Homo sapiens: one gene and its partners. The protein of the gene in region 3 interacts with the protein of the main gene of each other region in a pairwise test. Each region holds a gene or a part of one and is shown on either strand. Other genes may lie near its edges.

The links.
Region 1: the proteins of CRYBA4 (region 3) and CCDC33 interact in binary tests that used the Homo sapiens proteins (3 or more experiments, as listed by UniProt).
Region 2: the proteins of CRYBA4 (region 3) and EFEMP1 interact in binary tests that used the Homo sapiens proteins (3 or more experiments, as listed by UniProt).
Region 4: the proteins of CRYBA4 (region 3) and MIF4GD interact in binary tests that used the Homo sapiens proteins (3 or more experiments, as listed by UniProt).

The regions. Positions count from the first base shown.
Region 1 is NC_000015.10:74,329,780-74,336,942, reverse strand, and holds the end of CCDC33 (coiled-coil domain-containing protein 33), read right to left. Parts: intron 6,755-7,163; coding exon 6,589-6,754; intron 6,281-6,588; coding exon 6,192-6,280; intron 5,963-6,191; coding exon 5,831-5,962; intron 5,741-5,830; coding exon 5,647-5,740; intron 4,265-5,646; coding exon 4,098-4,264; intron 3,723-4,097; coding exon of another isoform or gene 3,621-3,722; intron 3,063-3,620; coding exon 2,976-3,062; intron 1,969-2,975; coding exon 1,855-1,968; coding exon of another isoform or gene 1,771-1,854; exon of another isoform or gene 1,447-1,770; coding exon of another isoform or gene 1,432-1,446; exon of another isoform or gene 1,019-1,431; coding exon 890-1,018; 3' UTR 802-889; downstream 1-801.
Region 2 is NC_000002.12:55,920,704-55,929,021, forward strand, and holds the start of EFEMP1 (EGF-containing fibulin-like extracellular matrix protein 1 precursor), read right to left. Parts: upstream 3,080-8,318; 5' UTR 3,008-3,079; intron 2,237-3,007; 5' UTR 2,196-2,236; intron 1,745-2,195; 5' UTR 1,738-1,744; coding exon 1,657-1,737; intron 1-1,656. UniProt on the Homo sapiens protein: Binds EGFR, the EGF receptor, inducing EGFR autophosphorylation and the activation of downstream signaling pathways. May play a role in cell adhesion and migration. May function as a negative regulator of chondrocyte differentiation.
Region 3 is NC_000022.11:26,624,658-26,631,711, reverse strand, and holds the end of CRYBA4 (beta-crystallin A4), read right to left. Parts: intron 6,232-7,054; coding exon 6,090-6,231; intron 3,425-6,089; coding exon 3,282-3,424; intron 1,373-3,281; coding exon 1,225-1,372; 3' UTR 1,043-1,224; downstream 1-1,042. UniProt on the Homo sapiens protein: Crystallins are the dominant structural components of the vertebrate eye lens.
Region 4 is NC_000017.11:75,267,992-75,276,792, reverse strand, and holds the start of MIF4GD (MIF4G domain-containing protein), read left to right. Parts: upstream 1-5,561; 5' UTR 5,562-5,649; exon of another isoform or gene 5,650-5,896; intron 5,897-6,070; exon of another isoform or gene 6,071-6,226; intron 6,227-6,547; 5' UTR 6,548-6,597; coding exon 6,598-6,679; intron 6,680-7,323; coding exon of another isoform or gene 7,324-7,446; intron 7,447-8,600; coding exon 8,601-8,710; intron 8,711-8,801. Other genes in the region: SLC25A19 (mitochondrial thiamine pyrophosphate carrier), read left to right, coding at 3,154-3,342. UniProt on the Homo sapiens protein: Functions in replication-dependent translation of histone mRNAs which differ from other eukaryotic mRNAs in that they do not end with a poly-A tail but a stem-loop. May participate in circularizing those mRNAs specifically enhancing their translation.

The DNA of each region.
Region 1 (7,163 bases), on a different chromosome or scaffold from region 3:
CCTGGCCTCTCCTGCCCGAAGCTGTGGGATCTGGATCCACTCTTGGAGCCCTTCTGCTTTCCCCACCACAAAATCCTCTTCCCTGTTGTCTTTGTCTTTCCTTCCTGTGTCCTTTTTCTTCTCTGGTCCTGAGTCAGCTTTGACTCAGAAATGTTATAGCTGGAAAGAGGCTTACAGCCAATGAGGTCAAGCTCTACATGGAATAGATGGGGAAACTGAAGTCCAGAGAGGTTGCTTGGGTCCCTTGAGGTCACACAGCCTGTTTGCCCCCAGAACCTGGGCCTCCTGACTCCCTGTAGGTGCCTCCTTTCCCCTGGCCCAATCTGCTCTCCTGCCCCGGCTACATTTGGACACATCATTGCCAGCTCAGCCTAGTGGCTTAATGGAGTATTTCACAATGATACGTGACTGCCACAGGAAGGCTTCAAGCCTCCAAGTCTTTCCCTTTCCAAGAGACAGACAAACCAAACTTGAAAGAAGGAATATCAGACATGATAGATGTTTTGGGGCAGATGAAAAGGACAAGCCTCCCTCGTATTTCCCAACAGAGCTGGTCTCTGGTGGCCTTGCTTCTTCTCCGGGTCTGGAAGGGGCCCGTCTCCCTGGCCCCTGCTTTGGAAGGCCTCTTCTCTCCACCCTCCTGGGTCCACTGTGGCCCTTGGCTTTCCAAAGATGCTGGCTCCTGGGGCAGGCGGGAGGCTGTAAGGCTGCAGCAGAAGACCCAGGCCCAGGCCCAGAGTGAGGTCTAGGAGGAGGAAGCAGGGCCCCCAGGCTGCCCTGCTCCAGGAAAGAGGAAAATGCTCACAGAGCTACAACATTTAATAACGTCATTTTTAGGGGGCGGTGATGAGACTCCCCAGCACACAGGGAAGGAGGCCTGCTCTGGGGCTCAGGTCTGCTGAGAGTTAGCGGTCTCCTTCTGGGGGCTCAAGGGCTTGTTGAGCTTAGAGTCTGAGCTGGGCAGCAGGGGCTCCAGCTCTGAGGGCTGCTTGAGGTCCATGGAGTGGGTGAGGGCACTCTGTGGTGTGCAAAGCGGGGTGCGTGAGTACCCCCCATTCCCAGGGGGTGACCTGCTCAAGGGCATATTGCCTGACAAACCAGGCCTCAGAGTATCCAGAATCCAGTGGGCCATGACCTGGCAAAGATTTCTAAACCCATTTTGCCACAGCAGGTGACACCTAATTTCTCCAAGGGTCCCCAGGGCTCAGGTGAGTGTGCAAAGGTTGCCTTTGTTCCTTGCCTGTTCCCTCATCCTTTCCAGGCCTTTCCCAGGAGCCGCTGCTGAGCTTCTGGCCACGGGCAAAGCACAGCTGGCTCAAGAGCAGGAGAAGTCAGGGTCTTTGCTTTGCGGGGCTGGGCGGTCCCGGGGTTGAACTTGAGGGGCAGTTGTGAGCAGGCCTGTTTGTTCTCGGGAAGTTGGCAAAGTGGAGCCTACATCGTGGCCATCTGAGAAGGGTGTGCTAATTTGAGAATCTTAGGCTCTATGGATTCAGGGGGGTAGGGCCACAAGCTACTCTGCCCATGAGCGCAGCCAGTCCTAAAGCACAGTGTCAGGGCATCCTGGAGATGCCTGCATGGACCCCTCATCCACAGTCATCTCCTTGAGTTTCACAGCACCCCATGGGGGAAAGGGTAGTTTTGGCAGGGGTTTTCTGTTCCCCTTAGACAGGTGGGGGAATTAAGACCGAGCCTTCGGTTGGTAATGGAGCAGGAATGGGAGCCTAGGACTCCTGACCCCCAGCCCTGGAGTTGGCTCCACAATGGCTTTTCTCAGGGCCCAGTGACTTTGGGGGTGCGGTGGCTTCCTGCTCCACCACCTGAACCCCTGGGAGCTACTCCAGGGGGGTCACTCACAGGCTGTTCTATGATGATGGAGTTCGAGGGGTGCCTGAAACCTTTTTCTTGCTCCTGCAGCCGTGTGGCCAGATCCTGCTTCTCTCGTCCCCAGCGTCGAGCTGAGTCCTCTAACTGCAGACACAGAGAGGGACAATTGGAGGACCATGGGCAGCAGGGCTAATCCCTGATGGCCAGGACAACCAGGGCCTGAGCCTGCTGTCCAGGCAGAAAGCAAAGCTCTGGGCCATGTGGGCTTGACACCTTCCCGAGACCTCAGGGGTGGCGGGGTGAGGGTGAGGGGGCCAAACAGTCAGGCAGCCTGACCAAGACACAGATGGACATTTCAACAACATACTGAGCTCTGATCCTGAGTCCACACTGATCCCTGATTCTGGTCATAGACAGAGCCTGACCCTGGTCACACAATGAACCCTGACCCTGGATATACACTGAACCCTAACCCTGGTCATACACAGAACCCTAACCCTGGTCATACACAGAACCCTAACCTCGTTGTACACGGAACCCTGACCCTGGTTGCACACTGAACGCTGACTCTGGTCACACACTGAATCCTAACCCTGGCTGCACACTGAACCCTGACCCTGGTTGTATACTGAACCCTAACCCTGGTCGCACACTGAACCCTGACCCTGGTTGTACACTGAACCCTGACCCTGGTCACACACTGAACCCTAACCCTGGTCACACACTGAACCCTGACCCTGGATGTACACTGAACCCTGACCCTGGTCACACACTGAACCCTAACCCTGGTTGTACACTGAGCCCTGACCCTGATTGTACACTGAACCCTGACCCTGGTCACACACTGAACCCTAACCCTGGTTGTACACTGAACCCTGACCCTGGTTGCACATTGAACCCTAACCCTGGTAACACACTGAACTCTAACCCTGGTTGTACACTGAACCCTGACCCTGGTTACACACTGAACCCTAACCCTGGTTGTACACTGAGCCCTGACCCTGGTTGCACACTGAACCCCGACCCTGGCCACACACTAAGCCTTGATCCTGGTCATAGATTGAGCCTAGACTCTGCTCACACACTGAGCCCTGGTTATAGGCTGTGTGGTGAGCCTGATCCAGCCTCATCAACTCCTGCATCTCACCCACCTGGCTTTCCAGGGACAGGATCCGGCTCTGAGCGTGTTCCAGCTTGGCCAGGAGGTTGAACTTGTCTGAAGTACCAGAGAGGAGATCCTGTGGGCAAAGCACAAACTCACATTTGGCCCCAGCTGGAGGCTGTGGCAGTGTGAGCTTGGGAAACCATAAGGTATTGAGGAAGAAACCAGTCAGGCCTGAGTTCAGACTGAGCTCCCGAGGCAGAGCGTCAGACCTGGGCCGAACCCTCTTCTGGAAGTTCAGAACAGGGTCTGGCATGTGCTTTTTTCACAGCTGTTTCCCACACAGATTTTGAGAATACGAAGTTTTGACACAACATTTTTTTTAATGTAAAATGCATTAGGGAGCCCCCTATAATTAACGCACTGGGAGTCTTTGAGTGAAGTGAAGAACCTGTGAGGCAGTTGACCTCATCCCTCACACTTTACCTGGATGTCCATGAGTCAGGTGTGCTTTCAACAGAACTCACCTCCGGCGAGTCCTGGGATGGAGAGAAAACTCTCCTGTGCCCCTGCCCTGCCCAATATTCTGTGATTCCAAATGTTCTGCTTTGGGGTTTATGTAAAGCAAGGGGCCCCTGAAGCATCTTCAGAGGTGGAGCAGGGCCTGGGCATTTCTGGGCCCTGGGCCACCCACCTGTGCGGGCAGGGTCTCTGTGCACTCTGAGTGGCCTGGGCCATGCGTCTCTTGTAGCCTCTCTGTCAAGTCTCCTCCTGCTCCCAACTCCCCGGGGTCCACCTGGGATGGAAAAGGGCTCTCCAAGGCTGCACCAAGACCAGGGAATGCTCCAGAAGGGAGTTTTGAGAGGCCTGTGTAGGGTCCAGGTGGAGGCCAGCCAGGTGAAAAAGGGGTCAGGGTTCAGGGACCAAGGGTCAACAAGGGGCTTGCTTTCTCCTGGGATGCTAGATGAGGTTAAAGGTGAAGTGTTCGGGGACACACATTCCGCAGGAGAAAAAGACCAAGGCCTGAGAGCTGATTCCAGGAGCCCCCAGGCAGACTGGAGACCCTGGGAAGCTTAGCTCCTGGTCTTGATCTTCAACTTGGGTTGTACCATGGGTGATTTCTGGGCACCCAGTGACCGGCATAGGCAGGCCCAGGTCAAGGGCCTCTTACCGGCAGGGCCTGTTGCTGCAGAATGATGGGGGCCTGCTGGTGGCGGTTCTTATCCAGCTCCGTCCGCAGCTTCGCGTTTTCTGCCAGCAGCACCGAGTAAAGTTCAACCGGCAGGTTCTCTCCCATAGAACCCAAGGGAAGGCCAGAGGCTGAGAGCATAGGGAAGCCTAGAGACACGGCCACAGATGTTGGTGAGATGGGCTCTCCTGCTTCCCATGTCCCTGTCCTGATCTGCTCCAGCATTTTGCTTCAATCTGCCACCCCTCCCCTCTACTCCCAAGCCTTCAATGGCTCCCTACCACCAGTGGGATCAGGTGCACACAGGCTGTCCTTCTAGGCTCTTTAGAACCTGACCTCAACGTTCTCTCTAACTCCTCATTTGTCTTCAGTGTATTTCAGCTCCTCACCTCTCTCTCTTCCTCCCTTCTCTGATCCTGGAATTCTTCTCACTCCCTGGGCCTTTGATCTGGCTGTTTCCCCTCCCTAGGTTGCCTTCTCAGTCTCATCCAGACTCCTGGATGACCTCAGGCTTCCTGAAAGGCCAGCCCAGCTTTCATTGCATTCTAAAGGCTCCTAGAAACACCCTCCTGCCCCTGAGACCCTCAGCGGTGAAGGCTAAGCACAGGGCTGGGCACACAGGGGCCCTGGGTGAGGTTGCACAGGCAGGCTCAGGGAAATCCCTTGCTTTGGGCTGGCCTGATATGGTGTTACCTGGTCCTTTCTGCTTATCAGAGGCTGATTGGCAGTTTTAGGTGGCTTTTGGTTAATATCGATGGGGAAGAAAACCTCCAAATCATTTATTTATTTATTTATTTTGAGGCGGAGTCTCCCTCTGTCACCCAGGCCGGAGTACAGTGGCACAATCTTGGCTCACAGCAACCTCTGCCTCCTGGGCTCAAGTGATTCTCCTGCCTCAGCCTCCCAAGTAGCTGGGATTATAGGTGCCCGCCACCATGCCCAGCTAATTTTTGTATTTTTAGTAGAGATGGGGTTTCACCATGTTGGCCAGGCTGGTCTTGAACTCCTGACCTCAAGTGATCTGCCCTCCTCGGCCTCCCAAAGTGCTGGGATTACAGGCATGAACCATTGCGCCTGGCCCCAGATCATTGATTTAATCAAAGTATTTTTGTTTGTTTGCTTTGCAGAGGCAGAATCTTTGGCGGTATGGGGAAATAATTCGACGGATCCTGGGGCTAGGAGCTGGGAAGTGTTGCCCCAGGTGGCCCTTCTTCAGGGGAAGGCCCTCTCTGCTGTGCTAGTCTGCAGGGCCCTCCTCTGGAGGTCCACCCTCTTTCTAGCCTGGCTCACACTGCATCCCAATTGTGTTCTGAGGGGCTTCCAGGGAAGGAGGGAGCTCAGGGGATCTCTGGATGGGGCGCCTGAATGAGGAGGGGAGCAGGGCAATCCTGGGTCTCCCAGGCCCACAGACATAACTGAGTGCAGGGGACCTCTTCGCAGGTTCTCCTGAAGCTGAGAGGCTCCAGGAAGGCAGGGCCTCCAGGGGTGGAGCAGAAGCTGGGGAGCTGATCACATCAGGGTGTGGACCCACCCGTGTAGGGCTTTCCCTGCTGCCTGTTCAGAGGAGGGGGCTTGCTCCTGTCCTGCAGCCTGTCCTCCAGCACCCGCTCCATCTTCTCGATCACCTGGAGAGCAGAGCAGAGGCTGGGCTGGCCCAGGGGCTCCCTACTCTGCCATCATCAGTTGGCCTCGGGGGCAGCCCCTCTGCCACCTGCCTTCTCTTGGTGCCGCACAGTCTCCTCCAGCGCCTTCATCTTCTGCAGCTTGCCCTGGTACTGCTTCAGCAGAGCGGCCTGTGGCTGCTGGGCCTGATACAGAAGGAGCAGCTCCTTCTCTCGATCATTCTTCTGTGAGATGGGGGAGGAGAGAAGGGGAGAGAATGGGTGCCTGGGAGTCCACCTTGGCCCTGAGGGTCCACCTCGGCCCCTCTGCTGAATCCTCCACCAGGCTGGTCCCCCTTTCTTCCGTGCTTCCATTCCCTCTGTGCCTGTTCTCCCTTCTCCTCCCAGACTCTTCTCACCCCGATGCTCCCCCACCATAGCTCCCTCCCCTCTGCCCCCACAAGCCCCAGCTCACTCGAATCAGCTCATTCTGCAAATGCTGCACCCTGTCCCTCAGTTTCTTCATATCCAGCTCACTCAGCAGCAGTTTCTGCTTCATGGACACTGTTAGGTGGGTTGGGGAGCTGGCTCAGGGAGGAAGCCTCTCCCAGCTCAAATCAGCATGGTCAGTAGCAGGAAGGCAGATATCCCTTGGCCCGAGGGCTTGGGACGGGACTGGATTCTCTGTTTCCCATCCCTGAGAGGACCCAGCTGGGCAGGGACTGTGTGAGTGTCTGTGGGCGAGGGGCTCCTATTTGCCAGAGTCCAGCAGCATGCACATCTGGGAGAAGCTCCCAGCCACCCTATTGCACAACCTGGAGCCTGGGCCCAGGCAGAAGCCCGGGTGCCCTTGGTGGCCTGCACATCCTCACCCGTGTTCTGGGCCTCACTGGCTTTGCCCTGCCCCTCTTCCTCCTCCTGCTGGGCCAGGCGGCTCCTCAGTATGCGGTTCTCTCCTTCCAGGATGCTGGCCTGTCTCCGCAGAGACAGGATGTCCTCTGCCATCTTCTGCATGGCCCGCCGGTAGTTGTTCATCTCCTGTGGATCCCAGAGCCCAGAGCTGAGCCCACTGCCCCATAGCAACCCTGGTCCCACATCCACATCTACACTTGAAAGTCAGTGGGTCCCCCACAAGGCCAGTGAGCACCAGGAGCCCCAAGCCATGGCCCTAAGTCTTAGCAGCTCCCTGGAAGGGTGGTTATGACTTGATCCTCACCCATCCTGGCCATGTGAGGGCAGCCACACTAATGTTCTCTCCCCGGGGCCACATCACGTCCTGTGATACCAACTCAGGGGGAAACCCCAGGTGTGGACACAGGGGAGGAGGCCTATGGGCAATGGAGACTTGAGAAGATCCAGGGCCAGGTTTGCAGGGTCTGGCTCGATCATAGCTATTTCTTCACCTTTTCCCTCCTCCTTCCCCATCTTCTAACTCCTCTCATTCCTC
Region 2 (8,318 bases), on a different chromosome or scaffold from region 3:
TTGGCTATGTAGCCCTAAGCAAGTTAGACACTCTCTCTGATCTTCAGTTCTACCATTAGTGGAAGGAAGATGATGCCACTTACCTTACACATTGCCGCAAGGATCAAAGGAGATCGTGTCTCCACAGCGGGATACTCAGAAATAGTTATTATCTTGTCCTTTAACCATGAATTATTAGGCATACAAAATTTAAAGGAGAATAGGCCCAATCTTAGCACAAAAGGGTAACATATCTGGAAAATTTGTTACAATAATAATGAACCCTAGTTAGTGGTCTTAAAACTATCATGTTTAAGCCACAGGGAACCTTCTCTGGTAAAAATGAGGAAGATTTAGGTGATTAGCAAAGGGAAGGGCATAGAAGATAAGCAACTGGAAAAGAAGTAAAATCTTTTATGAGATGATTATAAAAGTGGGTAGTGAATTTAATTTTAGCTCCCTGAGAAGGCAGTAAGTTTAGTCTGAATAACAAAACATTTTCATTTTAAGATAAACAGCACATGCCTTCATTTTTCTTGCTTAATTTATCTTCAGCAGAGGAAGCAACTGCATTTAACATGAAGTTAACAAAATATTTGTATTAAGCTATTTTATTTATAGTGGATCTGAACAACAGAAAGGAACATTTGCCAGATGAATACTAACATTCTAGGGATAATGTGGTACCAAAAAGTGAGATAATGTTTATTATCAGTAATTGACATTAGTTCATTTTTAAGAGTTTTCTTTTCAAAAATTTTTCACATTCTTTCGAGTAGGATTACTTAATTTTAAACTGGGAGCAGTAGAAAAATGTGCTTTTCATATTCCAATCCAGGACAAATGTCATTTGCCTAACACTGATTAAAGACAAGAAAACACAGAACAGAGGTGCAAACAAACTCACCAGAAGTGAAGTCAGTACTGTCCTTCTCTGTTCTCACCACAACTATTTGTAGCAGTGGGAGGGGTCAGGTGATCTTTTTAATATTTTATTAAACATTGGTTACACCTATGCAACTAACTAATCAAATATTACTTGGAAATATCAGAGACGCTAATTAGAAAATGCAAAACGGAGTTGCACACATTACGTTTTAAAACCACTTTAGCCAATATGCATCCTGGTAACACATAAACTGTTGTCTGCCTTTATTTATTAGAATTATCAAGTTATACAAAAAGAATGAATATATAGCCTTTATAAATTCAATAAAGGCCACTTACTTGAGAATGCATGTCATGTACACAAAGAAGGCCATGTGTCTTTATGGTGTTTAACGTTCTTACTTGACTTGAGTCTTATTCTGCACGTATTGGTTTTATCTGCATGTGGTAGGAGTCCAGGTTTTCCAGTTCCTTACACCCATTAATTTGTTGAATGTTTTGGAAACATGTAACTTTCTTTGGTTTTAGTTTTTGAACGGATCCCATTTTTAGCCCTGCACAAATGATTACATGTTGGTTCCTATCTTAGGTGGTGAGCCCAATGAACTTTTGAAAGGATCAAGGGGGCAATTTACAACGAATCTTAGATATGAAGCATGAATGAAGTGTTGTTTAATTTATCACCCTCAGCAGAGTATAGCCCAAATACACTGGCAGGGGTGTGTAAAGTCTTTTTTTGTCACAGAATCCCGCTGAACCGTACTTATTTCAAATTCCATCACCCCTTACCGTGTACGTGATGGTTTCTTCGGTGTCCTGTGACTTGACCAGCGCCAGAGTCAGCATAGTTAGGAAAAGGGCTTTCAACATTGTGAATCTCAAAGAAAATACAGGACAAACTAATGTTTAGTATCTGCTGCGGGGAAAGTAACAAAACTTTAGCAGTGAGCACAAGCGAGGAAAGGAGGGTGGGAGAGGCTGAGGCTCCACCATACTCAACTTCCAATCTGCTTTCTCATCTCCCCTCCCCCTCCTGAACCTTCTCGGTAGCCAACGAACGAGGCAGCAAAGACGTAAAAACTGCTGTAGAATTGCATTTCACGTTACTCCATCCTGCTACGCTGTTTACATACAAAAGACATTCAGCGTGCATTTTATACTGCACCTACAAAGCAGGCTGCAGAAAGAGGGGGTCGAAAGGAAAAAACAGTAATCCATTTCAAAGGGGACGGTGCATTTCCTGCCCCCCAGTCCCACACCCCGGGGGATGGAGGTGGGGCTGCAAAACTCTGTTCTCTAGAACGTTAAGGCTTTCCCAGTATACTCACCTTGAGCTAGCAGAGTTCCTTGCACAGCACAGCAAAAATACCTGTGAGCCAATATGAATTGCCTTGGCCTCAAGCTTTTTATTTTTTAAACAAAATAACAAAACAAAACTCGGAGAGCAATCTTCCAGTTCTAGTAGAATACTAGACCTTCTCACATGTCTCAGAGCTTCTCACATCCCCCAGCACAAACTCTCAAAGTGGCATTTCCACGCCTTTCTCTGCGCACAGCTTTGTTTAAAAGTCCCAGGTTGTGTGGAGGGGCAGCCCAAAGCGACTGATTCTCTTTTGTCTTATCAGTCTGGGTCCCCGACACGCTACCTTCGGTTTCAGGCTGCCTAGGACCGGAACCAGGGATCGCACCGCAGCCCAAGGTACCAGTTTCGGGCGGGCGGCCTGGCCCGGCAGGGAGATGAGGTCCCCTTTCTTAACAGCAAGCTAACGCGGCGGTCCCCTGGAGCTGCTCAGCGTCCCAGCTTCTAACCAGCTCCTATGGAATCCAGGTGCGGCTTAAATCTCGCACACTGGTCCCCTAAACTTTCAAAACCACGTTTATGGGCAAAGCCCTGCCGGCTGGTTGTCGGCGCGCACACACATGCCCATCCCAACAGATGTCACCCGAGTACTCGCACTTGCTGACAGATCGCATTCCGAGGCTGCACACCTCCACCTCCCTCTCTGCCCGAGACACCCTGCACAGTCCAGGGCAGTTCTCGGGTACTCAACACCCCTCAGCTCACCCCACCTCACTCTCCCGCGCGCGGCCCAGTGAGTACTGGGCTCGCTCGGGGCGACCCCCCGTTGGGGGCTCCTACCTGTGCGGCCGCGCTGCGCTCCGGGCCCGGGCAGCGAGGGGAGTGCGCAGGGGAGGGCAGCCCCGTGGGTCTGATCTGGCGAAGTCCGGCAGCGGCCGCGGCGGCAGGAGGAGGAGGAGAAAGGGAGGGAAAGGGGGAGGGCGAAGGGGGGCGGAGGAGAGAGCTGAGGGAGGCGCGAGCGCTGAGCCCAGCGTTGCGAGCCCGGCGGTAGAGCGCGCAGCGCAGCGAGGTCCGCGCCCCCTGCTCCAGGGGCCCTCTTTGCCGCCCCCGCTTGCCCTCCCTTGCCAGCTCCTCGTTTCCCAGACTCGCGGGGACCCCACGCCAGAGAGGACACGTTGACATGTGATGTCCTGGATGCGCTTCAGCCTTGGGGATGCTCCCACTCTCTAGTGCGTTTTCTTCTTCTCTGAGGAGGGGAACACAGCATCTCCCTCAGAGACCAGAGGGTTCTAGAAACTGCTGTTACTTTTTTTCCCAATAAGTGAATGCTAGGAGAGTAAATTAACCCCCATTCATAGAACTGTTTCCTTTACCTTTTCTTTCGGATTTTTTTTTTTTTTTGAGGAGGTGTCTGCTTCCACAAATGGAGAAAAATGAGAATTCATCCATTCAACAAATATTTGCCACCTACTGTGTGCTTAGTGTTGGGAATAGGCCAAATAGAACTTGCACTAACAAAATTGTGAGGTGGGGTTTGTTTTATGGTCTCTCAAACCTCCCTTTATGATAACAAGTGTTGGCAAGAATGGAGAAAAGGGAATGCTTGTATGCTGTTGGTGGAATGTAAATTAGTACAAACATGATGGAAAATTGTATGGAGGTTTCTCAAAAAACTGAAAGTAGAATTATCATATGATCCAGCAATCTCATTTCTGGGTATTTACTGGGAAGATTTGAAATCAGTGTGTTGAAGAGACGTCTGTACTTTCATGTTTATTGCAGCACTATTCACAATTGCCAAGATATGGAATCAACCTAAGTGTCCATCAAGGGATAAATGGATAAAGAAAATGTGGCATATATGTGTGTGTGTATACAAATATAATATATATTATATATATAAACACATATATATATAAAATATGTACACACATATATTTTAGATATATATGCGTTTTTAAGGCTAAATAGTATTCCATTGTGTGTGTGTGTGTGCGCGCGTGCATGTGTATATGAGCCCATTCTTCTGAAAAGTATCTTTCAAGCCAGGCAAAAATGGCAGTTCACTTGAATAATTTGTATGGTAAATAGAGAAGACTTACAGTTTGTTTTAGATATTTACTCCTAGACATTTAATGTTAGTGTACTATCAAGTAAGCCTAGACTGAGTTTAGCTTCACCACTTGGCTATGTAGCCCTAAGCAAGTTAGACACTCTCTTTGATCTTCAGTTCTACCATTAATAGAAGGAAGATGATGCCACTTACCTTACACATTGCTGCAAGGATCAAAGGAGATCGTGTCTCCACAGCGGGATACTCAAAAATAGTTATTATCTTGTCCTTTAACCATGAATTATTAGGCATACAAAATTTAAAAGAGAATAGTATTCCATTTTATGTGTCTGTGTGTATGTGTGGAATACTATTTAGCCTTAAAAAAGAAATTCTGTCATTTGTGACACCATGGATGGAAGTGGAAAACATTATGCACAGTGAAATAAGCCAAATGTAGAAACACAAATACCACATGTTCTCAAGTATCTGAAAGTAACTTAAAACAATTGAACTCATAGAAGCAGAGAGTAGAATGGTGGTTACCAGAGGCTAGGGTTGCAGGGAATGGAGAGATAACAGTCAAAGAGTGTAAGCCTCAATTAGATAGGATGAATAAGGGTTGGGTGCAGTGGCTCATGCCTGTAATCCCAGCACTTTGGGCAGCCAAGGTGGGCAGATCACCTGAGGTCAGGAGTTCAAGACCAGCCTGGCCAACATGGAGAAACCCCATCTCTACTAAAAATACAAAAATTAGACACGTGCCTGTAATCCCAGCTACTCGGGAGGCTGAGGCAGGATGATCGCTTGAACCCCGGAAGGCAGAGGTTGCAGTGAGCTGAGATCATCCCTCTGAGTGACAGAGTGAGACTCCATCTAAAAAAAAAAGAGAGGAAAAGTTTGATTTTTTTAAAGTTCAATTGCACGGTGTCGTGAATAAAGCTGATAATTGAGTACTGTATATTTCATTATCACTAAGAGAGTAAATTTCAAATGTTCTCATCACAAAAAATGTCAAATATTTGAGGTGATGGATATATTAATTAGCTTGGTTTAATTATTACACATTGTATTAAAAAATCATAACACCTTGTACCCTATTAATATATACAACTATAATTTGTCAATATATAATAAAAAGTCTCCCTTTTTATGGGTTTCTTTTTTCATCTATAGCTTCTCTTTTCTTCACTTATTGACTTAGTGAAATCTCCAATACTGCTCATTCAAAGTTGGGCATTTCACTTTCACCTTTCATAGTGGAATTTCAGGAATCTGGAGAGAAAAATCTTTTTTTCTGTTTTTATCAAATCATACCACACAAATTGCAGTTACCTCTGAAGGCTCCAACTCTAAAGTCATACTAATAGCTTGCTTCCAAGGCAGCTGTCTTCTAAGAAGCAAATGGCCAAATACAATTTCATGAATGAGAAAACTTACAAACTGAAGGGGTTAAAACTTTGACTCTGTCCTTGAGCAGGAGGCAGAGCTCAGGAGGAGAGGAAAAGCTCCTTTCCTTTCCTGCTGACTCAAGGTGGGAGGGTGGTAGCGACTGCAGGAGAGGGAGGTTATCAGGTGGAAGCTGCTCTCTTTATCTCTGGGGTATCCAGTGTGGGTTACCTAGACATTGCCAGTTTGGTAGCAAGCCACACAGTATTGGACAAGATCAGAGGGGAGGTGTACAACCCTCCCTAAACCTTACTTGAGTATACAGAGTTTTGGTAATTGTATCAAATATTTTTACTATCAAAATTCTAGTGTTTTCCCCCAAGTCATTAATGACCTCCAGATTTTTTTTAAATGGATCTTTACTTTTTGTACAGTAAGAAGATCTGTGCACATGGTTTTTCCTGTTTCTCTTAAACTCTTTCTACCTGTTCCCAGCCACTTTTCCAGAAAAATGGGGTGAAAACTCTCAAATTTATATCTCCAGCCTGGAACTGTTCCTATATATCCAGCTGCCAACTTGCTATCTTCATTTGGACATCTAATGGATGTTTCAAACTGAACACAACTGCTGTTATCATCCCCCAACCTACTCCACCCACCTTCACCATCTCAGTTAAAGCAGTTTCATCTTTCTATTTGCTCAGATTCAGGACCATGGAGTCATCCTTGATTTCTCTTTTTCTGAGATATCCTGCATTCTATCCTTCAGGAAATTCTGTTGGCTTCACCTTCATGATATATCCAGAATGGAACCACTTCTCATCACCTCTTTTGCAACCACTCTGGTCTAAGCCACCACCATTTTCCAACTGTATTATTGCAACATCCTCCTAATTGGTCTCCTTGTTTACAACCTTGTTCTCCTGCAGCCTTTTTGCAGTGGGAGTTCATATGAATGAAATCATAGAGTAAATACTCTTTCGGGTCTGACTTCCTTCACTCAGCATGTTGCTTGAGATGCATCCTTGTTATTAGGTGTATGAGAAACACATTCCTTTTTATTGCTGAGTAGTATTCCATTGTATGTATATACCCTGATTTGTTTGTTTACATCTTAATAGATACTTGGATTGTTTATGAATAAATCTGTTACGGACATTCACTTCTAAGTCTTTGCTGGGATATGTTTTCTTTTAGATAAACGCTTAGGAGTGAAATTGCTGTCATATGGTAGGGGTATGTTTAACAGTATAAGAAAGTGTCAAACTGTTTTATAAAGTGAGTGTGTTATTTTATGTTCTTACCAGCAATATGTGAGATTCAATTTGCCTGAAATCCTTGCCAACTTCTGGTATTGTCAGTAATTTACAATGTTAGCCATTCTGGTGGGTGTGTAAGTGGTATTTCACTGTGGTTTTATTTTACATTTCTCTGATGTCCAGTGATGTTGAATTTTGCTTTTCGTATGCTTATTGTCCATCAATATATTTTATTTCAAATTTGTGTTCATTTCTTTATTTTTTGGTCTTATTAGTTGTAAGAGTTTTTAAAAATAGTCTTCCTGCAAGTCCTCTTCAGATTTACATTTTTCGAACATTCTTTCTAGTCTTTGTCTTGTCTTTCCAATTTGTTAATGCTGTCTCTTGAGAGCAAACATTTTAAATTTTGATAATTTTTTTTTTTTTTTTTTGAAATGGAGTCTCCCTCTGTCACCCAGGCTGGAGTGCAGTGGCACTATCTTGGCTCAGTGCAACCTCCGCCTCCTGGGCTCAAGCAATTCTTCTGCCTCAGCCTCCTGAGTAGCTGGGAATACAGGCGCACACCACCACACCTGGCTAATTTTTGTATTTTTAGTGGAGACAGGATTTCACCATGTTGGGCAGGATGGTCTCGATCTCCTGACCTTGTGATCCACCTGCCTCGGCATCCCAAAGTGCTGGGATTACAGGCGGGAGCCACTGCACCCTGCTGGATGATTTATTTAATGGAGTCCAACTTTATGGATTCAAACTGGATGCATGGATTTAGCAGAATGCAAGTGGAAATTGCAGTAAATTCACCTTCCTAAAATTGCTCTGAGCTCAGAGGAATCTGAGATTTTAAAGATTTGGGCTGGGCACGGTGGTTCACACTTGTAATCCCAGCATTTTGGGAGGCTGAGGCAGGTGATTCACTTAAGGCCAGGAGTTCAAAACCAGCCTGGTCAACACAGCAAAACCCCTTCTCTACTAAAAATACAAAAATTAGCTGGGCATGGTGGTGCGCGCCTGTAATTCCAGCTACTCAGGAGGTTGCAGTGAGCCAAGATCACGCCACTGCACTCCAGCCTGGGTGACGGAGCAAGACTGTTTCAAAAAAAAAAAAGGAAGATTTGAAGATGTATGTGGTGACAAACTCATAATTTTAGAAGAGATTCACAGATGTTGATGATCACACACTGAGCACTATGATCTATGTCTCTGTATCCTTTGGAATGTGTGTCTTAATCAAACATGTACTATCAGTGTGGCTGAGTCTTAAGAGTGCTTAATCAAAGTGTAGAGTAACTGTGTTCAACGGGGACCCACAGTGGGCATCCCTGGCATGCTAGAGACCAAGATATGAATCACAGAATTAGCCCACAGTTTCTGGCCATGTATCCAAACCAGGCAACATTTGGGTCCACTTGATTTGTGAAAGTATATTCTCCTAGGAAACTGCTGAAGGAGA
Region 3 (7,054 bases):
ATGATTGTGCCATTATACTCCTGCCTGGGTGACAGAATGAGATCCTGTCTCAAAAAAAAAAAAAAAAATCAGCAAGGGTATAGAAAAATCGCATCAACACTGTTAACAAATTTGATCTGACATTTACAGAACACTGTACCCAATAACTGCAGAATATAAATAGTTTTCAAGTGTACTACCAAGCCTTTCAAAGATAGACCATGTGGCCAGGAGCAGTGGCTCAGGCCTGTAATCCTGGCACTTTGGTAGGCTGAGGCAGGCAGATGTCCTGAGCTCAGGAGTTCAAGACAAGCTTGGGCAACATGGCGAACGCTGTCACTACCAAATACAAAAATTACCAGGTGTGGTGGCACACACCTGTAATCTCAGCTGCTTGTGGGGCTAAGGCAGAATTGCTTGAACCTGGGAGGTCGAGGCTGCAGTGAGACAAGATTGCACCACTGCACTCCAGCCTGGGTGACGAGTGAAACCTTGACTCATTAAAAACAAAACAAACAAACAAACAAAAAATAAAATTAAAATACAAAAACCATGTGCTGGGCCATAAAATAAGTCTTAATTCATTGCAGAAGACTTAAATCTTAAGGAATATGTTCTCCGACCACATTGGTCTTTAAAAACACACCAATAACAATAAACACCTAGAAAATCCTAAAGTATTTGGAATTTAAATAACATCCCTTTAAATAGCCCATAGGTCAAAAGAAAAAAAAAAAACCACAAGTGAAACTAGAAAATATCAAACTGAATGACAATGAAAACACATCAAATTAATATTTGTGGGAAGCAGCTAAAGCCATACTTGGAGGGAAATTTATAGCTAAATGACCGTACTGGGTGGGGGAAAGAGAGGCCTAAAATTAATGACCCAGAAGTCTGCCTTAAAAAAAAGCTAGAAAAACTAAGAACAAAGTAGGCCTGAAGTAAATAGAAGAAAGGAAATACTGAAGTTAAGAGTAAAAATCAGTGGAATAATGATAGAGAAAACAAGGCTAAAAACCGGTTCTTTGAAAAGATTAATAAAATTGAAAAGCACAACTAATACCAGACTTTCTCTTTTTTATTCGTTTGAGTTTTTTGTGCTGACTGTGCACGGACCAGTTCACATGGGTGCTGGGTTCACACAGGTTACAGGGGGAGGCAGAAGGAGAGAACACACCACAGCCTCCAGAGCGCCTCCATTGCAGATAAGCACGCATGCGCTCCTCCGTGCCGCACCCCTGTTCACTGCTGGATCCTGCGGATGCTCTGCACCTGGAAGGTCGGGGCATGAGAGCCCCACTCCCGGAAATGTTTGTAGTCACCGGAATGGTGATCGCATTCCAGCACATACTGAAATCCTCGGTAGCCCGGAAACTGGGAGCAAACCCAGCTGGAAAAGAGAAAAGGCAGACAGTTACTCTACAGAGACACCAGCATGGTGATCAACACAGGGGCAAAGGGATCTATGCACACGCACACAATTCCAGCCATCCTGGCCTTTCTTCAGTGCTCACAATGTGCCATGCTCTCTCCCCTACCACAGGGCCTTTGATCATGCCATTCCCTTTGCCAGAAGCACCATCCCAGCCTTTCTTTTCCTAGACAAGTTGTATTTGTCCTTCATGGCTCATCTTAATTATGAGGGCAATCTGACTCGTTCCCCAAATCAGGCCACAGTCCCTTATTATACCTTTGTAGCACTCATGTAATTCGATAGTTTTCAAATTATTTGTAAAATATCAGCCTCCCCTGCCAGCAGGCAAGCTCCTGAGTGTAGGAACGTGTATGTTTTGTTCATCGTTATCACCACCTGCATAAATATATAAAAGTCTAGCAAGGAAGAAGGGGTTCCTAAATATTTGCTGAATAAGTGAACAAGTGAAGGAATGGGAAGTCTTGTTCTTTCCCCTTTCTCCCTCCTTCCTTATCCAGAGGCACTTCCAAGAAAAAAAGCTATCATTTCAATTCATTGATTTTTTTTTTTTTTTTTTTTTTGAGACAGAGTCTCACTCTGTTGCCCAGACTGGAGTGCCGTGGCATGACCTCGGCTCACTGCAACCTCTGCCTCCTGGGTTCAAGTAATTCTGCCTCATCCGAGTGGCTGGGACTAGAGGCATAGCCACGACACCCAGCTAATTTTTTGTATTTTTAGTAGAGACGGGCTTTCACCATGTTGGCCAGGCTGGTCTCGAACTCCTGACCTCAGGTGATCCGCCCACCTCAGCCTCCCAAAGGGCTGGGATTACAGGCGTGAGCCACCGTGTCTGGCCCAACTCATTGATTTCTACTCTGTTCAGGACAAGGATTGGTGTCTGGTTTTCCAAGCCTCCATTTCCCTTTCTGTAAAAGAGGAAGTGAACTCAAGAATCACAAGGGGTCCCTCTTACTCTAAAACAACATGATTCTTTGGTGGTTCCTGAGAAAACTAAAGCCAAAAAAAGAAAAAAAAAAAAGATGAAAAACCCTACCTCCCATCTTTGCCCCCTGCCTACCAGGAGCCAAGGGGCACCTCAGAAAGTGGTTCTGATGTCCTCCCTAAATAAGAATCTCACACCTTAGCCTTCACCTGCCACCTCCTGGGTGGAAAGGAAAGGGCCAGTCAGTGCTGAGTTTGAAGCTGGATTGTTACCTACCTGCTGATGGACTTTGAGCAGGTTGCTGGAGCCACACCTGTGTTTTATGGCTAGGGGCATTCATTCTCCCCTCTTCTAGCCAAAGAGCCTGTGGCCTCTCACTCTCAGCCAAGGTGAGAAAATGAGGCTGAATCTAGCAATGGACCACATGACCAAACCTAGCCAATCAGAACACCCCATTCCTATGGGCATGATGATTGGTTCAGAGTTGAGCACAGGACCCAGCTGGACCAATGAGCACCTTTCTTGGAACCTTTAATAGAATCACTGAGCCTGGACACTGTCTTTCCCTAGGGCTGGATGTAACGATGAAGCCGCCACCTTTGCCTTCACACAGGAAGAGCTTGTCTAAGAATATAGTCACACAGAGGCAGGCAGGGCAACAGGTTGGGGGTTGTGGGGGGAGAGAGATACCTGCTGTAGTACCTGGATCCAGCTATGCTTGAAGCTAATTACAGGGGCTGATAAATATCTTCTGGGCTCAAACCAGTTTGATCTGGGTTTCAGTCCCTCAAATTCTGCCTGATACCTCCCTGTGCCTCAGTGTTCTCCTCTGGAATGTGGGCATCAGAGCACAAAAGTCCCCAGCACACAGTTTTCACAGGAGGTACACCTACCCCTCCCAGTAGCCCCTCCCCTGCCAGGTAGAGCCTTGAATACACTTACGCCCCAGAGTGGACGTGGAAGGACCCTACTTCATTGCCTTCCCATCCCATGGCCTGGAGGGAAGGATAGTCATCGCTCAGCTCTCCTTTCTTGCCCAGGAAGTTCTCTTGCTCGAAGATTGTCAGCCTCGAGTCACGGTGGTTCTACAGGAACAGGGAACACAGTCAGACCAGCAGGCTCCCAGTTGGAAACCCAGGAGCCTCTCCTGGCCTCCACACTCCCTGCCCTTGTCTCCCAAATCAGCCTTCCTTGCAAACCTTTTGGAAGGGCAATAAGGCAACAGGTACCAGAAACCTTGCCATTTGCCCTTCCAGAAATTTCCACAAAGAAAATAATCATGGAATAAATAGGCTGCAAGAATGTTCATCATAACAGTTTTTTCAAAAACAAACAAACAAAAAAAGGAGTCAACTTTTATGTCCAAAATTGGGGATCCAGTGGTAAGCTGAGGCATTACACTGTGGTTAAGAAAAAGGGTGTAGAGGCCCGGCGCGGTGGCTCACGCCTATAATCCCAGCATTTTGGGAGGCCGAGGAGGGTGGATCACCTGAGGTCAGGAGTTCAAGACCAGCCCGACGAACATGGTGAAACCCTGTCTCTACTAAATACAAAAAATTAGCCAAGCGTGGTGGCACATGCCTGTAATCTCAGCTACTTGGGAGACTGAGGCAGGAGAATCGCTTGAACCTGGGAGGCAGAGGTTGCAGTGAGCCGAGATTGTGGCATTGCACTCCAGCCTGGACAACAAAAGCAAAAACTCCATCAAAAGAAAGAAAGAAAGAAAGAGAGAGAGAGAAGGAAGGAAGGAAGGAGAGAGAGAGAAAGAGAAAGAAAGAAAGAGAAAAAGAAAGAAAAAGAAAGACAGAGAATGAAAGAAGGAAAGAAAGAAAGAAAAGGAAAGAAAGAGAAAGAAAGAAAGAAAGAAAGAAAGAAAGAAAGAAAAGGAAAGAAAGAGAAAGAAAGAAAGAAAGAAAAAGAAAGAAGGAAAGAAAGAAAGAAAGAAAAAGAAAGAAAGAAAGAAAGAAAGAAAGAAAGAAAGAAAGAAAGAAAGAAAGAAAGAAAGAAAGAAAGGAGGGAGGGAGGGAGGGAGGGAGGGGAAAGGAAAAGAAAAGAAAAGAAAAAAGAAGGAAAGAAAGGAGGTGTAGAGATATCATCTCAAATCCTTCCTGCTAGGAGGCAGCTGCCACTTACCAACTGACTGAGGTTAGACAGGATTTCTGAGCCTCTGTTCCTGTATCTATAAAATGAAACTAACCCTACCCATTTTTCAGGGTTCTTTTGAGGACTAAATGAAATCAGGAGTTGCAAACTGCTGGGAATGAGGGATTGTTTCTGTTGCAGCCCGCCACGGGTCCCTATATTAGCACAATATCTAGACTGTTTGCAGAATAAATGAACAAATGGACTTATTCACAAAACAGAATACTAGGGAGCTATGAAAAACGATGGAAGTGAGATTTAATCACCTGGACTGATGATTGCGACACATTTGCTCAGTGAGAAAAGCTAGTTTCCAAGCCTTAGATTCATTATGATTCCAATTTTATGACAAAATTATGTGTGCAATATAGATAAGATATATAGATTATACAGATATAGATGTAGATGTTGATTTGGATGTGTATATACATAGAGACACAAATGTATAGGTTGAACATCCCTAACCTAAAAATCCGAAATCCAAAATGCTCCAAAATCTAAAACTTTTTGAGTGACGACATGACACTCAAAGAATGCTCACTGCAGTATTTCAGATTTTGGATTTTTGGATTCAGGCTGCTCAACTGTAAGTATTACAAATATTGCAAAATCTGGGGAAAATATTCAAAATCCAAAACACTTCTGGTCCCAAGCATTTCAGGTAAGGGATACTCAACCCTGACCATAGCAGGATTTTCCTTCAGAATTTTGGATGGTAAATATGGTGACTTATGTCATTTTAAATCAATAAGAATTGAAAAATAAAACACACTTTGTTGTTTTTGTGTTTGTTTGTTTGTTTTTGTTTTTTTGTTTTGTTTTGTTTTGAGACAGAGTCTTGCTCTGGCGCCCAGGCTGGAATGCAGTGGTGCGATCTTGGCTCACTGCAACCTCTGTCTCCCGGGTTCAAGTGATTCTCCTGCCTCAGCCTCCTGAGTAGCTGGGACTACAGGCATGTGCCACCACACTCAACTAATTTTTTTGTATTTTCAGTAGAGACAGGGTTTCACCATGTTGGCCAAGCTGATCTTGAACTCCTGGCCTCAAGTGATCTACCCGCCTTGGCCTCCCAAAGTGCTGGGATTACAGGTGTGAGCCACCATGCCCAGCCTAAAATACACCTTTCTGAGCCTCAATGTTTTCATTGGTGAGATGGGAATAATAATGCCCACCTCCACCCACACTCCAAAAACAGCAGTAAAATGTAAGATCAGGAGCACTGATGCTGAATTAGGAGCAAGAAATGAAACCTTTCCTCTCCACTTGGCCCTACCATCCCTGGTACCCAGATTCTCTCAGGGTCCCTGAATCACAAAAAAAAAAGGGCACAAAACTGGCAGGGGCTCCTATCACAACCAGGGTTGCTGTGAGCAGAGAGTTTAAGGCAGGCTCTGGTCAGATGTTATACGTTCTTCTTCCCAAGAACATTGGTACTATTGCCCCATTTCAAGATGAAGAAACCGAGGCTTGGAGAGGAAAGAGACTGAACAGCCCTTGTCACACAGCTTGAAGTGGCGACATGAGAATTTCAACTCTGGAACCTTTGATTCCGAAGTGCCCACATGAGGGGCTTGGGCCTCCCCGGGATGCAGCAGTGGTAGAACTTACAGCACAGGCCGCAGGCCGGAAGGAGGTGAGCCTCTCGGCGGGGTAGGCCGTGTTGCCGCCCCAGGCATCCCAGCTTGGATATTCGCCTCGTTCCAGAATGTACTGCTGCCCTTGGAAGCCAGCATGCTCAAAGCCCACCCACCTGCAGACAGAGGGTAGAGTGTGCAGGAGGTAAGCGTCCCCCTCACCCTGCATTCTAGACCAGCAATTGGGTCTAGAACGGTCACAGTCACAACCATTCAGGGGTGACTGTGCCCCCAGGAAACACTTGACGATGGCTGGAGACATTTTTGGTTGTCACGACTAGGGGAGGGACTGCGAAGGCCATCTATCGGGTAGAGGCCAGGGATACCACTAAACATCCCATAATGCACAGGCCAGCCTTCCCTGCAAAGGATGATCCAGCCCGAAACATCAGTAGCGCCAGAGTTGAGGAACCCAGCTCTAGACCTCACTTGCTGTGTGTCCCATAGGTAGGGAAACTGCTTCACACAGGTGCCCTGACAACCTTGCTCCTCCGTCCGTGTCCACAGAGGCCAAGGAGGCAAAGCTGATCACAGACTGATCTCACCTTGGTGGAATTCCCCGTGATCCTGCCAGGGTGTGGGAGACGGGCAGTCTTGCAAGGAGCGACCGCATGGCCATCTCTCATTTTCCTCCCTCTCTTGTGGGAGGCTGCCACGAGGCAGCCCCTCATCTGCCTCTCTGGCCACTCTGAGATGTGGGGCTTTCCACCTCGCCTCCCCACAGGCGACAGCAGCAAGCTATCGTTGAAGCATGGAAGCAGCTCTTCAGCCACGGGGTTCCTACCATTCCTAATGCCTGTCATTCAGCCCCCTTTGTTTTGGTGTCGTCCAGTAGGACAAGGGACACAGGAGGCTGCACCTTGCCTTTACTGTCTGTATAAGTAATAAACTGTCTGAATCTATCCAAGCTCATTGTCTGCTTACTGGCTGAGTCTGTCA
Region 4 (8,801 bases), on a different chromosome or scaffold from region 3:
TGAGGCAGGAGAATGGTGTGAACCCGGGAGGTGGAGTTTGCAGTGAGCTGAGATTGCGCCACTGCACTCCAGCCTGGGCAACAGAGCAAGACTCCATCTCAAAAAAAAATATGTCCAGAGGCTGGGCGTGGACGTGGTGGCTCACTCCTGTAATCCCAACATTTTGGGAGGCCGAGACGAGTGGATCACCTGAGGTCAGGAGTTCTAGACCAGCCTGATCAACATGGTGAAACCCCGTTTCTACTAAAAATATAAAAATTAGCTGGGTATGGTGGTGGGCGCCTGTAGTCCCAGCTACTCGGGAGGCTGAAACAGGAGAATCGCTTGAACGTGAGAGGTGGATGTTACAGGGAGCCACGATTGCACCACTGCATTGCAGCCTGGGCAACAGAGCAAGGAAGGTCCCCAAATATTAAAGCACACAGAAAAGGGGTTTTGCTGTAGCTGTTCTGGAATTGGGTGAATTTGAGCAACTAGGTTATATATATATGTATTTTTTTGTTTTTGTTTTTGTTTTGAAACGGAGTTTTGCTCTTGTTGCCCAGCCTGGAGTGCAATGGCACGATCTCGGCTCACTGCAACCTCTGCCTCCCGGGTTCAAGCAATTCTCCTGCCTCAGCCTCCCAAGTAGCTGGGATTACAAGCGCGTGCCACCACGCCCAGCTAATTTTTTGTATTTTTAGTAGAGACGGGGTTTCACCATGTTGGCCAGGCTGGTCTCGAACTCCTGACCTCAGGTGATCCACCTGCCTCGGCCTCCCAAAGTGCTGGGATTACAGGCATGAGCCACTGTGCCCAGCCATATATATATATATATTTTTTGAGACGGAGTCTCGCTCTTTTGCCCAGGCTGGAGTGCAGTGGCGTGATCTTGGCTCACTGCAGCCTGCGCCTCCCTGGTTCAAGCGATTCTCCTGCCTTGGCCTCCAAGCAGCTGGGATTACAGGCGCCCGCCACCATGTCCTAATTTTTGTATTTTTAGAAGAGACGGGGTTTCACCATATGAGACAGGGTTTCACCACATTGGCCAAGGTGGTCTTGAACTCCTGACCTCAGTTGATCCGTCCGCCTCAGCCTCTCAAAGTGCTGGGATTACAGGCATGAGCCGCCACACCTGGGCCTAAGTTGTATTTTATGTGCACTAGGAGAGTTGGCCATTAAGAGAAGCCCCGTGCTAAGTCATGTTGTAGTCTCAGTAGTCACTCCTCAGTTGCTCAGATTTTTACATACTCCCTTTCTTTTGGTCAGTGGGTAGGGTTAGGGGTAGGCTAAGGATGGGCAATTCCAGGCCTTTCCCCTCTGTATCCTGGGAACCTGAGATGCGGAGGTGTGAAAAAATATGCCTGACAATGTCAGAGGAGAGGGATGGCATGGAATGGGAGGCAAGGTAGGGAGAGAGCATTCCTTCCTTGGGGGAAGAGAAAGAGCTGGGTTTATAGTTATAATGCATTTTCTTTGTAGGAAACTTTAGAAAATTTAAGATAGATGAAAGAAAGACCAAGCCAGCTGCAGTGGATCACGCCTGTGATCCCAGCACTTTGGGAGGCCAAAATGGGAAAATCAGTTGAGGCCAGGAGCTTGAAACCAGCCTGGTCAACATAGCAAGACCCCGTCTCTACAAAATAAAAATTAAAAAATTAGCTGGGCATGGTGGTGTGTGCCTGTAGTTCCAGCTACTAGAGAGGCTGAGGCAGGAGAATTGCTTAAGCCCAGGAGTTCGAGGCTGCAGTGAGCTATGATCACACTACTGCACACCATCTTGGGCGACAGAGTGAGACTCTGTCTCAAAAAAAAAAAAAAAAAAAAAAAAAAAAAAAAAGACCAAAATCCCTTGTAATTTCACTACCACAGATAACCACATGGAACCTTTCAGTGTAGTTTTATTTCTTTTCATAAATACACATGTACATTTTAACAAAAATACGGATACACTGTATACAAGGTTTGTAACCTCCCTTTTCCACTTACCAACTTGTCCTGAAGGGAGAGTTTGTTTTCTTTTCTTTCTTTCTTTTTTTAAATGGGATATCGCTCTGTTGCCTGGGCTGGTCTCGAACTCCTGGGCTCAAGCGATCCTCCCCTCTCAGCCTCCCAAGTAGCTGGGACTGCAGGCATGCACCACTGCACCCAGCATGAAGGGACAGTTTGAATTTGGACAGGGAGCCGATGGTGAGAGCCCAGGATGGCAGAGGGAGGCCTTACTGCTAACAAAGACTAGTGTAATCCAGTTTGGCCAGAGGTGGGAAGGGCACGTGGGAGGACCAGTGGAGGTCAGATCAGGGAGGGAAATCAAGGCCAAATGGTGCAGTGCCTTAAACGGCAGATCTTGGGGTTTGGACTTGATTTCTCATGATGTCGTCACTAGGAGTTACTGCAGCTTTTGGAGGGAAGCCAGGCTTGAGGAGGGTTGTGCCTGGGGATGAATGTCTGGCAGCAGTGTGTGAGGTCAGCTGGAGAGGGTGAGGCTGGAGGCAGGGAGGCCCGGCTGAGAGCTACTGAGGGCCAGGTTCAGATCTGCTGCCCAAGGGGGATCAGGTGGGATGGGATGAAGGGTCAGAGATGCCTCTGGGAAGAGGTTCTGGAGCCATTGCTGGATCCTTTGGAGCCACAGGCAGCCGTTCTTCCTGGGCAGGAAGGAGCGCTGTCCAGCTTCTGATTTCTAGGCCTGTCATCTGTTCAGTCTTAACCCAATTACAGTAGAAAGAATGAAATTAATTTATTTGCTATTTTGAGCTGGGCATGGTTGTCCATGCCTGTAATCCCAGCACATTGGGAGGCTGAAGCAGGTGGATCACCTGAGGTCAGGAGTTCAAGACCAGCCTGGCCAACATGGCGAAACTGCATCTCTACTAAAAATACAAAAAATTAGCCAGGCGTGGTGTTGTGTGCCTGTAATCCCAGCTACTCAGGAGGCTGAGGCAGGAGAATCACTTGAACCTGGGAGGCAGAGGCTGCAGTGAGCCAAGATTGTGCCACTGCATTCCAGCCTGGGCAACAGAGTGAGACTCTGCCTCAACGAAAAAATAAAATAATTTGCTATTTTGCATTCATTTCTTTGTCCAGCAAGTACTTCTTAAGATCTGTGATGTGCCAGGGGCTGTGTTGATGGGAGCAGAGCGGGCATCCATATTTTCATCCCTTTCCTCTCCCCAGGTACGGAGATACAAGGGCCTCATGGACTGTGCCAAGCAGGTGCTGCAAAAGGAAGGCGCCCTGGGCTTCTTCAAGGGCCTGTCCCCCAGCTTGCTGAAGGCTGCCCTCTCCACAGGCTTCATGTTCTTCTCGTATGAATTCTTCTGTAATGTCTTCCACTGCATGAACAGGACAGCCAGCCAGCGCTGAGTGCAGGAAGGACCCCAGGTCTTCCCTGGAGGCAGCCTCCTGAAGGAAGGAAGATTCAGTCTCCACTGAGAGGTGCCGTCTGGCCCTTCCCTGCAGGCCAGCTGCCCCAAGCGGGGTAGCAGCCTTGAACCCACCCAGCTGGGACACCACCAGAAGGTCCAGGGCTCTCCCCATGAGAGAATCAGAGGGAATGCAGGACGTGGTCTATGGTGAGCCAACGACACAGTGAGAAGGAGCAGGAAGTTGCTGTTTCTCCTCTGACCAGCCCACACTCCAAAGGAAACAGACGCCATCCTACACCTATCAGCCCTGCCTGCCAGGAGAACAGAACACACTCCTGGTCTGGATGGGGCTGCTGCTTGAGTGCAGAGGGCTGCGGTAGGCCCTTTGCAGGAGTCAGGTCCCTACACTTGGCCTGTTTTTCCAACCTATTTAATAGACATTAAAGCTAAACACACATTCCTTATCTTACTCCATCTCCCCTGGCACATCTGCCTACTCACAAAGTATGAGGGAAAGGACTCCTGCCTTCCTCAAATCCCATGTTCTCCATAGCGGCAGCCCTTGGCAGCTCTGCTTCTAGTGCTGGGGGAGACTCCAGGCTGAGCCAGTCACTTTCTGGGCCCCGTGCCCAGACCTTCGTGTCTGCAGACACACCACCACCCAGGCTGTCCTCTCCCAGGACCGGGCTGGTCATGGCCGTGGGGCTCCATGGAAAGCAGATCCCAGCGCCCGTGCAGGAAGTGGATGGGCCATGCTGTGGGCAGGCGTGGGTGAAGGTGCAGCCTCTCCCCAGTCTACCTCACTGACTCCTCTTTCACCCAGAGCTGGGTCAGCCTTGCTGGGTGAGGAGCTATCAGCAGGACAGGTGGCATCAGCGCCCACTGCCTGCTCCTCAGTGCAGAGCATGCTGCGGGTGCATCCTCCCCTGTAGCCCCAGAAGGGCCGTGGCTCTGAAGCAGCCCACTGATGGGGATGGCAGAAGGAAGGGGCGGGCACGTAGCCTGGTGAGGGCACAGCTGGTGCCTGGGGTGTTACCAGAGCAGAGGGACACCCACAGGCGGAGAGGCAGAGGAGAAACCAGTTCCAGGCTGAGGGGAGGTCTCCAGAACATGACCTCCACCCTTCCCTCCATCTGCCCGGCCTGTAGGGTTGCTCCGACCTGGGAAGCCCTCCATTCTGCCTCCCTCTCCAGCCTTGGAAAGAGGCACCCACTGGGAGCCGGCGCTGGCCCTGGCCCTGGCGTGTGGGTCCTGGGCTCCTCCTCGCACCATCCTTCCCTGCCTCTGGTCTGGGATTTTGGGGTCTGTCTGGGCCCTGAATGCTGGGGCTTCCTGGCTCTGGGCTGCTGGTTCCCAAGGTCCAGGCTGCGGCGGGGGCCACGAGGATGCAGCTGCCTGAATGCATTTTTTATGAAATTCCGTTAAAGTTTCTTCTCTTCATCTTTCCTGCCCATTGGTTTCTTTTGCTGCAGCTGAGCGTTCTCTTCCTCCTCCGTTTTCGGTGACCACTTTGGCGGTTCTTTTAAAAGGAGGCGAGAACGCGGGCAGCGCCGGCAGCGCTCCTCCCGGTCGCGCGGCAGGAGCGGCGGCAGTTCTTCCCCCACTTCTAGGTGCCCTCCTGTCACCCAGGGCAGACGCCGGGCGGTGGGGTCCGCGCCACTTCAGGGGCATTCGCAACAACCGACGGCCGCGAGTTGCCAATGGGGCCCCTTTCTCGGGGCTGCCCCTATGACCTGAAACTCGCTTCGCCCATGTCCTCCTTGGAGCGGGAGAGGGTTGTGGCTGGCCCCGGCCCTGCAGCCCCTGCCTTCTCTACCTGGGTTGGGGGAGCGGGGAAAGTGGTGCGACCAGGGCTGATGCTGTTCCTCCTGCCACCAGGTCCCCACCACGCGCTCTGCAGGCTCTTCCCACGCCGCGCAGCCCAGCGGTGTCTCCCGGCCCAGTGCACCTGAGCTCCGGGGAGGGCTGGGTGCGGGGCCACGCGCAAGATCGAGGTGCCGGCGGGTCCGGCGTGGGCCCGGACACGGCCCAGGCGCACCGGGTGAAGGGGTGACGAGCCAAGCGAGTTCCGCTTGCGGCTGGGTGGCAGCGTCGCAGGGTCCCACGCAGGCGGCGCGGCTTCCGGGGCGGCCTGGAGGCCAGGGCAGTGCCCCGGGGGCCCGGCAGGTGGCGCGGGCGAGCCGACCCTTCCCCGGCGCCGCGCGAGGAGATGAGCTCACGGCGGGCCCCGCAGCGCCGGACGCTGGTTGCGCGCTCCCAGGCGCCGAGCGGCCCCGGGCACGCGCGCGCGCCACCGGCCCGGCAGGTGGGTCCCGGCTCCCACGCCGCCTCTCCCGCCCGCGGGACCCTGGGCCGTGGGCTCCGCAGCCCGCCCTGTGCCTCCGGGAGGGGCGTTCCGGGCGCGGGGGGAACGGCCGAGGGCTGGAGACCCTAAAGGCGCCTCCTACGGCCAGAGGGGAGCCTCCGGCGGGAGCCACCTCTCCGGGGCGCATCATCCTGCCCCCCAGTAAGAGGAAGGCTCCAGAATGGAGCTCAGGAATTAGGAGTCTCGAGTGCGTAGGGCCGGGTTACTGCCACTCGGGAGCCGATCCGACCAGCCTGTCCCAGGGAGAAGCTGGCACGGGTCTGGGGAGTTCAGGCTGCTCCCGGCAGGGGCGGCGGACAGGGCGCCTGCGTCCCCACCCACGCAGGCCGGCCCCATCCGGGGGATGCAGCGGCGGGTGTTGAGACCGAAGGACTCGGCGAAAGCCAGAAAGAGAGGGTTGGGGAGAGGGGCTCGGAGACCTGCTGGGGACAGAGTCGCACCGCTTGGAGTTCCCAGCCTGGCCCTCACCCGGCATCTTCCTGGGCCAGCAACGTCAGGCCGGTTTATTTAAGCAACTGTAACGTCCGCCCGCACACACCCTGCCCCAGTCTACTCCTGCCTCCTGCTGGGACTGGAGGGTGGGCGCTTTCCTGCTTCAGCTTCTCGCTCTTGTGTAATCCCACAAGCGAGGGATTTCTAAACTGAGCAGCAGGTGCCTGGCTGATGCCCAGTCCCCACCAGAAGCCAAGCCTGGTGGGCCTTCAGCCAACCACCGCACGCCACGGACCGCCCAGGAGTCCCTGTCCCGAGCGCGCCGTCAGCCCCGTCCAGGGCCTGCAGGACGGAACCCGCCCTGCGCTCCACACCTGAGGCCGCTCCCTTCGCCTCTTCTCCTCAGGTGCTGTCCTTATTCCCAGCCCAGTCAAGAGCTACCGGGGCTGGCTAGTCATGGGGGAGCCCAGTAGAGAGGAGTATAAAATCCAGTCCTTTGATGCAGAGACCCAGCAGCTGCTGAAGACAGCACTCAAAGGTGAGCACGGGACCCCTCCTGAGCTGGGGTCAGGAGCTACAGAGAAGGGCCCCTGTGGGCAGCACCAGAGGCTGAGCCTGGTGAATGCCTCCACCCCTCCCCTCATTCTCTGACGATAGGAGTCGGCAACGTAATTCTTGAACTGGAAGACAAGCTACATTGAGGCCATTATTTTGGAGTATGAATCACAGTCACCTCTCAGACTGTAAAGACTGTTTTAAAAGTTTAACCATAGGGCTAGGCGCAGTGGCTCATGTCTGTAGTTCCAGCACTTTGGAAAGCCAAGGTGGGCAGATTGCTTGAGTCCAGGAGTTCAAGACCAGTCCCGGAAACATGGTGTAAACCCCATCTCTACAAAAAAAAAAAAAAAAAGAAAGAAAAGAAAAATTAGCCGGGCATAGTGGCAGGCACCTGTGGTCCCAGCTACTTAAGATGCTGAGGTGGGAGGATTGATTGAGCCTGGGAGGGTGAGGGTGCCATGAGCCATGATCCTGCCACTGCACTCCAGCCTGGCTACAGAGCGAGACCCTGTCTCAAAAAAAAAAAAAAAAAAAAAAAAAAAAAAGTTTAACCATAAAAAAAAGAACACGGCTCCTGCCCTTGAAGCGCTTACATTTGAATTGCTGGTTTCTGTGCTGCCATAGCCCCGTCTCTTGAATGCACAGTTGCCTGCTTTGAGACAGAAGATGGAGAATATTCCGTTTGCCAGAGGAGCTATAGTAATTGCTCTCGCCTGATGCCTTCCCGCTGTAACACGCAGTACAGAGGTTTGTCTTCAACTAATAATTAGCAACACCCATCATGTGTCAAGCCGAGCCTGTTGGGAGGCCCTATGTGGCCCTCTCTTGTTGGGGGTTTGCATGTGTGTAGTATAAGAACACTTTTTCTTGTGAAATTGCTGTTGGAGGCATGTCCTGGTCAGTATTCCTTCCTCAACCTAGTGCCAGGAAAAGATGTGTTTCCTGAGAAACTACATTCTTACTTTGATTGGTCCCTACTAGCCACATAACCCTCCCCATTTTCTCTGACTGGGCAACCAGAAGACAAGACAGCTAAAGCTGTTTGTATGGTTACTGTCCTCTGTACGGTTTCTTTTCCCTTTTTTTTTTTTGAGACAGTTTCGCTCTTCTTGCCCAAGCTGGAGTGCAATGGCACGATCTTGGCTCACTGCAACCTCCGCCTCCCAGGTTCAAGCAATTTTCCTGCCTCAGCCTCCCAAGTAGCTGGGGTTACAGGGGCCCGCCACCGTGCCCAGCTTATTTTTTGTATTTTTGTAGAGACGGGGTTTCATCATGTTGGCCAGGCTGGTCTTGACCTCCTGATCCTGACCTCAGGTGATCCACCCGCCTCAGCCTCTCAAAGTGCTGGGATTACAGGCATGAGCCACCACACCAGGCCCTCTGTATGATTTCTTTTATTTTTTTCTTTTTTTTTTTTTTTTTGAGACGGAGTCTTGCTTTGTCGCCCAGGCTGGAGTGCAATAGCATGATCTCGGCTCACTGCAACCTCCGCCTCCCAGGTCCAAGCGATTCTCCTGCCCTAGCCTCCCAAGTAGCTTGGATGACATGAGATGACGCACGAGCCACCACACCTGGCTAATTTTTGTATTTTTGGTAGAGATGGGGTTTCACCATGTTAGCCAGGCTGGTCTCAAACTCCTGACCCCAGGTGATCCAACCACCTCGGTCTCCCAAAGCGTTGGGATTACAGGCATGAGCCACTGCGCCCGGCCATGATTTCTTATAAGTACCATGCGCTAACCAATTGCACCACTGGAGCCACTGTCCTCTGTATGATTTCTGATCTCTTTCACTTCAAGCATATGAGTGCTCTACTGTAAATATCTCAAATTCTTAGAAGCGGGTGGACACAAATGTGATAAAGCAGCAGCTCTAGACTCCCCTCCTATCTCTACCCCTAGATCCGGGTGCTGTGGACTTGGAGAAAGTGGCCAATGTGATTGTGGACCATTCTCTGCAGGACTGTGTGTTCAGCAAGGAAGCAGGACGCATGTGCTACGCCATCATTCAGGTTGGGGGTTGGGAGAGGAAAGGAAGCTGCTTTGAGGAAGGTGCTTCAGGAGTGGGCAGAAGGCCTGGCCTGCAGGACAGAGATGCACAGG